2 separate regions of the Homo sapiens genome follow, and region 1 is linked to region 2. Evidence: fine-mapped expression QTL. A gene starts in region 2. The other region holds a variant in brackets. All regions are shown on one strand. Distances are between the middles of the regions. Region 1 has its middle 120 kb from the start of LRIG2. Region 2 holds the start of MAGI3 (membrane associated guanylate kinase, WW and PDZ domain containing 3).

The links. PIP is the estimated chance that this variant, and not a neighbour inherited with it, causes the effect.
Region 1: its variant is the best candidate, but not a certain one, in a credible set for the expression of MAGI3 in whole blood (TOPMed, PIP 0.72).

Annotation. Positions count from the first base shown.
Region 1 is chr1:113,189,429-113,194,803 of GRCh38, reverse strand. No RefSeq gene overlaps it. Among named protein-coding and RNA genes, the nearest start is that of LRIG2, 120 kb to the right of the region's middle. RefSeq lists an enhancer at 2,480-2,589. The variant G/A (reference allele first, on the strand shown) is at 2,700.
Region 2 is chr1:113,387,893-113,393,267 of GRCh38, reverse strand. MAGI3 (membrane associated guanylate kinase, WW and PDZ domain containing 3) reads right to left here and starts at 2,753. Exons shown (of 21, transcript NM_001142782.2): 1 at 1,919-2,753. The coding sequence starts at 2,234. RefSeq lists enhancers at 1,708-1,757, 1,808-2,307 and silencers at 1,988-2,147, 2,208-2,337, 2,748-3,107, 3,138-3,187, 4,177-4,421.

The sequences.
Region 1 (5,375 bases), 200 kb after region 2:
GCCGGGCCAAAGACCATATGAGATTTGCGAGTGTCCTATGCAACCTGGCCCTGGAAGCATGTGGGTAATGGAGGAGAAACAAGATTTGAACTGTATAGAGCCAAAAGCTAGTCTGTAGGAAATTCTTCCAATCATCGGATGTGTAAGATTGTAAGTGCAGAATCCAGTTCTCACTGATACCTAGTCATATGCATTAGGCATATATATATTGAGTAATGCGGCGATACAAGTACATGCTTTCCTTTTTTTCCCCTTTTTAAAATGACAAATATAATTTATCAGAATTCCTGTGTTCGTAGGATACAAACTGTAGCGGTCCTACAAACAAGTATGTCTGGCTGTGGTCACATGTGTTTATGCATCCCATCAATCATAAATATAATTTTTATTATGCCAGAGGACTTAATTCTCATTCCATTCTCTATATGGAAAATATTACAAAATCATTACATATGATGAGGCAATAAGAGTATTATTCAGCCAAAAAATGTGGAGAAAGACTTATTGCAGTGTGTTAGGCAGTTAACTAAGAAAAACATGATATTATTTTTCTATATTTTGTGATATTTGAAGTATTTTTCCACTTTAAAAGCTTTACAATTTATTTATTTTCCCAATCTACATAAAGGTCCACTTTCCTGCCTAATTTTGTTTCTGTAATTTTGTGTTTTTCTTAAAGAGAACCCTCGGCCGGGTGTGGTGGCTCATGCCTGTAATCCCAGCACTTTGGGAGGCCAAGTGGGGGGTGGATCACGAGGTCAGGAGTTCAAGACCTGCCTGGCCAAGATGGTGAAACCCATCTCTACTAAAAACACACAAAAATTAGCCGGGCACGGTGGCAGACACCTGTAATCCCAGTCACTTGGGAGGGTGAGGCAGAAGAATCGCTTGAACTCGGAGGGTGGAGGTTGCAGTGAGCCGAGATCGCGCCACTGCACTTCAGCCTGGTGACAGAGTGAGACTCCGTCTCAAAAAAATAAATAAATAAAACCTCAAATTGTCTAAGCTTCAGGCCCCACAAAACCTGAGTTCACCCCTGGAACATACAATTCTTTATTCCTTGTCATGGTCTAATGGGAGAACCCTATTGCCTCCCTCCTTTACCACATATGTAACCAGTGCCTGCTGCATGCCAGATTTCTGAGCTAGGGATGGGCACACTATCATGGATAAAACAGACCTGGCCCCTTCCCACGTGGAGAGAAGCAGACAGACATCAAATAAACGAAGTCATACAGGATGCTGTGGGAGAGAAAAGGGGTGGGGACCTCTTGCAGGAAATAATGTTTCAGCAGAGACTCAAAGAATATGTAAGAGTTACCCAGATGAAGAGTAGAAGGATGAACGTGCAAGTGGAAAGAACAGCATGAGAGAAGGCCCTGAGGTGGGAAGGGCTTGGTGCATTACAGGTACTCAGTAAATATCTATTGAATTAATTTTTTAAAATTATGATTTGGGCAGGGCCAGGGTGCTATGGGAGCATATAAGAATGGCACAGAACCCTTGCCTACCCCAACCAGCAACAAAGGAATGAGGAATGAGAAAGAGTTACGTTAGAATTGACTTCCTGACTTTCAGGAGGAGAAATAGCATGTGCAAAGGCCCTGGGGTCAGAGAGAGATCAGAGAGCAGTTCTGTATGGCTGGACCATAGTGGGATGGATTTGAGGAGGGGCATTTGTTGAGGGGAGAATGAGAATTGGCAAGAAATGAGGCTGGAAATGTAAACCAGAGCCAGATCATGAAGGGCCTCATAAGCCATGGTAAGCTGTGTAGATTTCATTTGGATGCTGTGGTGAGGTGGTGTTAGGGAAGGAAATCATAGGCTCAGGCCAGCACGTTGGAAAGATCTGGTTGCATGGTCAAGAGAGGACTGGATGGGCCGGGCGCGGTGGCTCACGCCTGTAATCCCAGCACTTTGGGAGGCTAAGGCAGGCGGATCACAAGGTCAGGAGATTGAGACCATCCTGGCTAACATAGTGAAACCCCATATCTATTAAAAATACAAAAATTAGCCAGGCGTGGTGGTGGGCCCCTGTAATCCCAGCTACTCAGGAGGCTGAGGCAGGAGAAAGGCGTGAACCCAGGAGGCGGAGCTTGTGGTGAGCCGAGATTGCACCACTGCACTCTAGTCTGGGTGACAGAGTGAGACTCCATCTCAAAAAAAAAAAAGAGGACTGGATGAGACGGCAAAGTTGTTAGAGAAATTCAGGCAAGAGAGGGTGGTGGCCACAGGTAGTGTGGCATGGGGAGAAAGAAGTAGACAGCTCCAAAGGGGAACATTGTGTACCTGATGGAGTTAGGTAGGCAAGATAAGAGTCACATCAGGGCAGACGCCAGGCTGGTGCATAGTTCCTCTTTCTTCCTGAAGCTAGCTAACCTCATGGGAGACAGGGTTCCTGGTTTACAATGGAGGGTGTTACAGGACTGCCTGCATCCTTGGCTACTGGTCACCATGCCCTGCTTATTTTCTGCTCACTCTGTCCTCTGACTTTTCACTGGGTTTGGCCAATGGGGAGCTCACAAATACTGCAGAGCAGAGGAACAGGGTCCCCCATAAGGACCTTGCCTCCCCATGAGGAGGCCCAAGGCTGGCTGTGCCCCTCAGTCTCTCTCAAGGTAACCTTGTCATCTCTACCTTCCTCTACATGACTTTTTTACTTCCTGGTTTCAATGTCCACTCCCTCCCCTTTCACTTGG[G/A]CCTGGGGTGGTATACAGCTCAGCTTACGGGCTGCAAAAACACCCCAACATCCCTTCTGGTTCCCACGACTTCACCCACACCTTTGTTAAATTCACCCTCCTTGAGTTACTCTAATGAGTGTGACATCTGTTTCCTGTTGGGACTCTGAGTCACACACTTCTGACACCAGGCTGAATTGTTCATAAAATAATTCCCAGTTCCTTTAAATCAGACCACACCCCCGCAAGCCCAACAGCCAATAAGGCAAGAACACACGCTCCAACCGTTTACCTGGTGTGCAATCAGGATCTTCGTACGCCTCCTTCCCCTGGTCAAGTTCTGCTCCTAGCCACCCAGATTTGAGTAGGGCTCAGATTCCCCAGCTGTGACCCTGGGGATTTTCCTAGCGCTGGGCACCGCCCACCACACTGCCCCACACAGGATGCCGCTGCCAGGTTCGGCGCCTTGGGCTAGGACAGGGTATGCAGGGACAAGGGAAGGTAGGTAGCCTCAAGGTTCCTTTTCACCAACCCTGCTGAGACCTGGGGATCCCATCATCAAGTGGCCACTGACCTCCCCTGAGAGGGCTGGAAAAACTTGCAAAATGGTTCTGACTCACTGTTCTCTAGGCTTTCTGCTGACCTGTGATCACCTGCGTGTCTGTCTGGGTGTGTATAAATGGGTCTGTGTCTGTGGTATTTTTGTCTGTTTTTCCCTCCCCAACTCCAGAATGTAAACACACTGAAGGAAGGGACTTGTCTTGTTCTCCACTGTATCCCAGTGCCCAGCCCAGTGCCTGGGACACAGTAGTTAGTGGATAAGTATTTGTTGACCAACAGACCAGTGACTGGTCTCTCATCATCTGTTTACAGTCTTCCCCCAGACAACATAGAGCTCCACCGATTAGATTTCCTAATTACATTCCTTTTCAGTCTTGCCTCCCTGAGATGAGCCTTGTCAGCATCGTGAATATTTCCAGCAACTCCTCAATCACACATTTATAGCTTTTTTATGGGATACTCCTACAACCTGATTAATGTCTTTATTGCCCTAAGCACTGACAAGTTTCCAGGGACTCGCACATGAAATTCAAAATAAAATTTTATAGCACATGAAATTCAAAATAAAATTTTATTTTTTGGTTTAACATGAAAGTTTATGCTAAAATTTTAAAAAGCAACTTTCTAGATTTTCTGCCTGCAAAATTGTGAATAAGCTCATTACAGCTGAACTTATCCTTCTTTCTCTCTGTTTGCTGGTGCCCTAGGCAACTGTTTGGTTTGTCTATCGGGCATTAGTTATTTTCATATACGAGTAATTCCATTACTAGTTTTTCACAAGCCAGAATGGAGTTCTTGGGAGCATGGAGACGACAGGGAAGAGTCAATGTCCCATTACCCCACATGTGTTGTTTTTCAACCTAGGCACTACTGGCTGGACATGGGACTAACCCGCTCATTGCAGGACATTTATCATTTCTGAGTTCCAGGCGCTAAATGCTGCTAGCATCCCCCAGTCATTGTAACAATTAACAACAAAAGGGCCTCCAAAATCTCCCTAAGGGAGCAGTTCTACCTCAGGTCAAGAAGCATCATTCCCGGCGTGGCTGAATGTAGGTTAAAAGAATGTTCTTTGAAAGGTCCTTCCTTACCCTGCATGTCTGGAATGCACACCCCTTTCTGTTCCTCCTCACTGATGGGACCCAGGTTCTATAAGACCATTCCTGGGCAATGGAGCCCACAACTTCTCTCTACTGTGAGTAAGAACAGTGTGATTAGTGCCACTCCTTAACATTTTGTCATGTGGCATGACTCTCATTATAACATCACCTTTCATGTTAATTAGCTCTCAGAACATTTCAAAATCTGCATGTGTGTCTCTCTGACTAAGTTATGAGCTCCCGGGGGCAGAAGCCATGTTTTATAACTCTTCACGTAGGAGAGAAGGTTGGTTTTAGGGGTGAAGTGACTCAGGAAGAGGTGTCTAGAAAGCAACTTGGAATTAGGGTCTGAAATCCAAGGGGAGGTTAGAGCTAGACACAGACTCGGGATGCAGCTGCCCACAGGGAGAGCTGAAATTATGGTAGGAGAAGGGATGACATCAGTTCAAGGACATCACTTTGAGAAATGACCACCTTTAGGATGTGGGAGGAAAATAAAATCCAATAAAGGAAAAGGCAGAATGGTAGGGTTGTGGGAAGTGATGGAATGTTGCTGCATCTCAGAAGGTGACAGGGAGGGGACTGGTTATCAGGACCAGAAGGAGGCAGGACTGAGGAGAGCCTGCCCTGTCTGCCAGCTGAGAAGCCGATGGCAACCTTTGGGACTCTCTCAGTAGAGTGGTAAGAATGGACAAGGCTGTGAAGGACTAAGAAGTGGGGAAACTATGGCAGAGAGTGCAGGTTTCAAGAATTGCAGAAGCGAAGACAAGACGGCAGTCATGTGAAAGGGCGACTTGGCACATAGGAGGCATTCCTAAATAGATCTGTTTGTATAAATGTGTTCTTGATACAAATATTTATTTTTATAAATATATGTTAATATTATAGGAGAGATGGAAACAGTGTTTGGGGACAGTGGGGGAAGGGGGAAGGGAGAAGCCACATTTGCAATGGAATTCTTAACAGAGATTGGCCAGGTCTGGGTAGCAGAGGATGGGTTCCCAGTCCAGGTGGAGGCCTTAGACTTGGAAGGAGA
Region 2 (5,375 bases):
TCAAGAGGGCAAAACTGTATTACTCTAATAATGTCAACTACATACGGGGGCATAGGATGTTTATTCAACACAGTTAATATTACTAATGCTCTAAATCTTGAATTATTGTTAAATATAATATAGAGGTTGAGAAAAATGTATAACAGGTAGATTAGACTAATGTTATGAAATAGCCATCTCTTCAGTCTTCTAAAAAAGATCACAATAATTTAGAATACACCAGCTTCCATGTCAATATATCAACTTTAAAATTTCTAAAAATAAGTTATATTCTCATCTATGCCCTAACGAATCAAAACAAAACACAAAGAAATGATGCAGATGTTCTCACTATTCACTAACTCATGGGATTTGAACTAAGATTTGGCAGCTAGACTAGTAAATGCTGTCTATATAGCCTTTTGCATATTACAGACAGTGCCTGACTAGCTGAATTACAGCCCCAAAAGTCTTTCCTCTGCCTTTCACACATGGCTGTAAAAGTTAGAGTTAAGAAAAAAATTTACAAATTCTCAAAACTATACAGAAAAAGCTGTTTAAAGTCTGCCAAAGTTTTAAAAAATTAACAACAATAAAAAGAAAACCTCACCACATAAACCCATACACTTAAAATGAATACGATGGAATACGCTATAGAAAGAAAATCTTAATTATGACCTTAGGAGCATGTGAGTCTGTGTGTATACATATCCACAATACACAGACATATGTAAACTGCACCACAAACCATCAAGCCCCATTAAGCTCAAGGACTATTAAAGATATATTAATATTTCCAAAGCGAGCTGCTGAGAAAGAAATGAGAAGGAGATAACATATTAAATTTTTATCCAGAATTTTCTAGCATTTTGCCATCAAGGGATGGACTGCTACCTAGCCCAGGTAACAATTAACCAGCCCATTATATTTTGATGCACCGTATACTCAGCAGAGCACATTAAGGAAAAACAGTTTGGTTTCTAATAATGTTACAATCACAATTCTCTCTCCCACAAACATCTAAGACGACAGAACCACATTCTATCTATGCTGAAACAAAACCAACAATGCTGTCTATAACAAATTCATAAGAACTACTACATACTATCAGATCTCACTGTATGCTGTCTCTGATCAATGCTTTGAAACTGACGAGTATGCCATAAACATAACGTGCTTTGCAGCAATTTTTACTAGCATAAAAGATACCAGGGCAACAGAGGCTCCTTTAACCTACCACTTCAACAAAATTCTGTAAAATCAAAAGCGTTACAGAAGCTTTCACTCCGCTAGGCACCTAGGTCTTCCTGCAAAACCCAGACTCTATTCAACAGCTCCCTGCAAGAACACACCAGTCTGCCACATATCACATATTGTACCGTCATCGGTACTCAGACACCTGAACCACCTGGACTGACAGAGTTAGGCTGTCAGCTCTGAGATGTCTGCTAGAGTGCAAGAAACACTGAAGCAGCTAAGCCCTTCCAGGTACACCAGGTGGTAACCTTGGCACCAAGTGCCTCTATAGTAAAGTCCCTTTTTCCCTGTTAGAAGATGCGTAAGATCGTTCCAAAGAAAATGTTACAATCCTAAGGGCCTTTTTGCACAACACAGGAAAAGGCTGGCCTTCTCTAGTCAAAAACTCTTGTCTGCGGGGGGAGATGGAGCTACAAATGTAGGAAACCCAGCTTCTAGTCGCAATTCTGTGACAGCTAGCACAGCTAGCAGAGCAACCGCGCCAAGCCAGAGCTCAGTTTTCCCTTCGGCAAAATGGGACTCACCAACGCCACCCCTCCCCCTCGTCAAGGAGTCTGGCACACCCTAGAGGTCTAAGATTACCCGGGACAATACGCGGTGGGGAGGTGCCGCCGCTCCCAGGACGCCCACCCTGAAGCCCCTCTCCCCAACACCCCGAGACAGATACGCAGGGCCGGCGTACCTGGTTTCACAGTCTTGAGACGGATGGGCTCGCGGAAGTGGCGGATGACAGCCAGGGTGTCCCGGTTGGTGAGCCCGCTGACAGGCGTCCCGTTTACCTCCAGCAGCACATCGCCTGGGCTGGGCGCCTTGCCCGAGACGACGCAGCAGGTGCCCCCGCCGGGCTCCTCGCGGAGCCGCCCCAGGTAGGGGAACTCGCCACGCTCCGCGCCACCGCGGATCTCCGCGCCGAAGTCGCCCGGGGGCCCGGCCCAGGACACGGCGCACTCCTGCACCTTGCTGAGCCAGTGCTTCTTCTTCTTCAGCGTCTTCGACATCCCGAACCCCGCTGCACCATGGGGGAGACCCCGCGCGGGCGGCCGGGGCGCCGCTCCGGCCCCGTCTCAGCCCGGGGGCCCTGGGCGGCCCGCGCAGCCCGGTAAGGGGGGCCTCGCCGCTCCGGCCCCCACCCCGCGACCACAGCCCGCTGGGGGCCCGGCCGTTCCCAGACGCGAGACGCCCCTTGGACGCCCCTCCCGGCTGCGCTCCCCGGGGCTGACCGGACTCCGCGAGGGCCACCGCGGGTTAGGCTGAAGAAAGGAAAAGGGAATTGTCCCCAGGAGGTTCCAGAAGGGGCTTCGGGCGGGGTCACTGCCGCCGGCTGGTCCCTGGGCTCAGCGCCCGAGCGGCGGGAAAGGCTGAGGCGGGGGGGCGGGGAGGTGAAGGGGGAAGAGCCGGGAACGGGAAAAATCCGTGGGGGGCGCGCAGAAGCGCGCGTAGACCCGTCGCGGGATCGATCGTGGCCGCTGCGGAGCTGTAGCGCGGAGACCAACGCCTGCCCAAGCTGCCAGGAAACTGCCGCTTTCAAACCAGCCGCAACCTCCTCCTCCTCCCTTTTCCCTTCCCCCGGCCCTCGCCCATCCCTCATCCAGAGCCCCGCCCCCTCCCGCCGCGCGGCGCCCGGCGCGCTGCCGTCACAGGCTGGGCGCTTGGGAACGAGCCCCGGCCCTGGACTCTCGCGCCAGGGATTGGCCCCCGGCGGGCAGGAGGCGGACCGCCAACGAGAATGGGGACCACTGGTTGGTCGGTGCGAGTGGAGGAGGCGGGCACTAGAATGACTGAAGTTTAGAGAGGGTGGAAAAAAGAAGTTTGGAGAGTGAGGGAGGGCGCAGAGGAGGGGCAGGGGAGTGGAAGGGGCTGTAGGTCGCAGGGCCGGGAGAGGCCCTCTGCGCGGCGGCTGGAGCCGAGGAAAACTCGAATCCGAGAGGGACCGAGCTCCCCGAAGTGGGGGCGTGGCCGGCGAGTTAGGCGGAGACGCGGGCGGAGCCTCTGAGCCTGTGCGGGGCGCAGAGAGGGGCCGGTGTGCTTAGATTGGAAGACAACGTGCGGAGTCCTGAGCCGGCCGAGGTTCCGGGGCCTTTAGGGTGGCCTGTTACAGCCGATAGTTTGCATTGAGTGGATATTGCTTGTTCATTCGTTCATTCAACAGATGTTACTGAACGCCCATTGAGGCAGGGCTTCGGAGTCCGGTTGATGAAAGATATTATAAAATAGAGTCCGGCACTGCTGTATGACCTAAGACAAATTAGACAACCTCTCTGAGCCGCAGCGTCCTCAGTGAAAAGTGAAGATTACAGAAGATGTACAAAATAACTGCATAGTGCCTGACAGTGGGTGGTTGCCTCTTAAAGTTTGGTAGCTGCTGCTGCTGCTGCTGATGACGATGACGATTTTGTGTTAGATATTGTGCTAGGTACTGGGATTCAAGGGTGAAGAAAACAGAAGCCCCGCTATTGAGGAGGTTACAGTCTAGTGGGAGAGACTGAGAAGTAAGCAGACTGCCTGAGGTGAGGGAGTGGGGTGGAGGTAGAAGGTGGATTATTAAGAACTAACCTGGTAGCCAGCAGATCTGGTTGGAGTCCTGACATGCTACTTACTTGCTGTTTGACCTTGGCCAAATCTCAGTTAAAGGAGGTGAAGGGAGAACGAACATTAAATAAAAGATATCGTAGATCCCTTCCAGCTCTAATTTTTCAGAAATTTCACTTGAGCTTTCTCTCTTCCCCGGCTTGACTTACACTCTTCCCTGTCTTTGGAATGCCCTTCATCTCATCTCTTTTAAAACTCCTATCCGTCCTCATCCCAAATGCCGGCTCTTCCAGGTAGCTTTCTCTGATTTCTTGCCCTCAAGTGGAAAGTGTTTTCTCTGAGCTATGATCTTTGTTTCACTTTTGCAGCATGACATTTATTTGTGTAGTCTCCTGTCTCCCTTTAATAGTAGGTGAAAGCCCTTATAAAACTCCACACCTCAGATAGACTGGACCAAGCTTCAATAGCTGCAGTGATTTCGTTGACACCATTGTATCAGTCAGGGTCCTGGCAGGAAACAAATGGCATTTTGCAAAGATGTGGGCAGGGTGTGGGAAACCACAAGAGAAGCTGGAACCCTGAGGCTACAGCTCCTAGATCTGTCCAATCGGGAAAGAACAGTTACCGAAAAATCCAGACACACAGGGCCACCTGACAGGAGTCTGTGACCTTCAGTCAACGGATGCAGTCAGCCTAAGTAAACACCCAGCAAAGGACCTGGGGGATTTATATCTAACTCACCACCCTCCTCCAGTCTCCTGCTGGTGCTTGTCAATGGCCAAGTCCAACCAGACGCCAGAGGGCAAGGGAGGCTTTTGATATAGTTCATATCAGTCAGTTTCAGAAAAGGAAACAGTGCATCTGAGGGGAAAATATTCAGCACAGACACCATGTGGATGGCTCAGATTTAACCATATCTGAGACAAAGCTTGGAGTATTTTTTTTCTAAACTACTACCTATACTAATGGATTCCTGGATAAAATCTCCATAACCTACACATCATCTGTTTTTGCAGGAACTCTGGGAAAACATCTTTCTGTGTCTAGATTGCATCTGTTAGAATGCCTTTGGCCTCAAGGAACAGAATATTTGGCAGTAGCTTAAAGCATGAGGTCATTTACTATATCTTCAATATAAATTTCAAGTGCAGATAGTTTCAGGGTTAGTTGAGCAGTACAATCATGTCATCAAGGACCCAAGCTCTTTTTTGTGTTTGCTCTCTGCCATCACATGCATGTGAGCTTTTGTCTCCAGGTTTGTCACCTCTTAATTGCAATGTGGCTGCCATAGCTCCAGACATCACATCCACAGAGGTCACTGCACAGAGCAGGAACGGAAGAAAAGGAAGTGCTGTCCCCCATTTTTATGAAGGAGAAAAATATTTCCCAGACTTTAGAATCTTCCTTATTGTCCAGAAAATGGTCATATGCCACATCAGACCAGTCACTGGCAAAAAGAGATAGGATTGGCCACAGTTCATTAAATTGATCACAAGTCACCCCTAAACAAAATGAGTGTTCTGACTGAGAGCAGAAAAGGGGAAATAGTTGCTAAGTAGGCATCCAACAGTGTTTGCCACATGCCTCAACCATGAATAAGTTGTATTCAT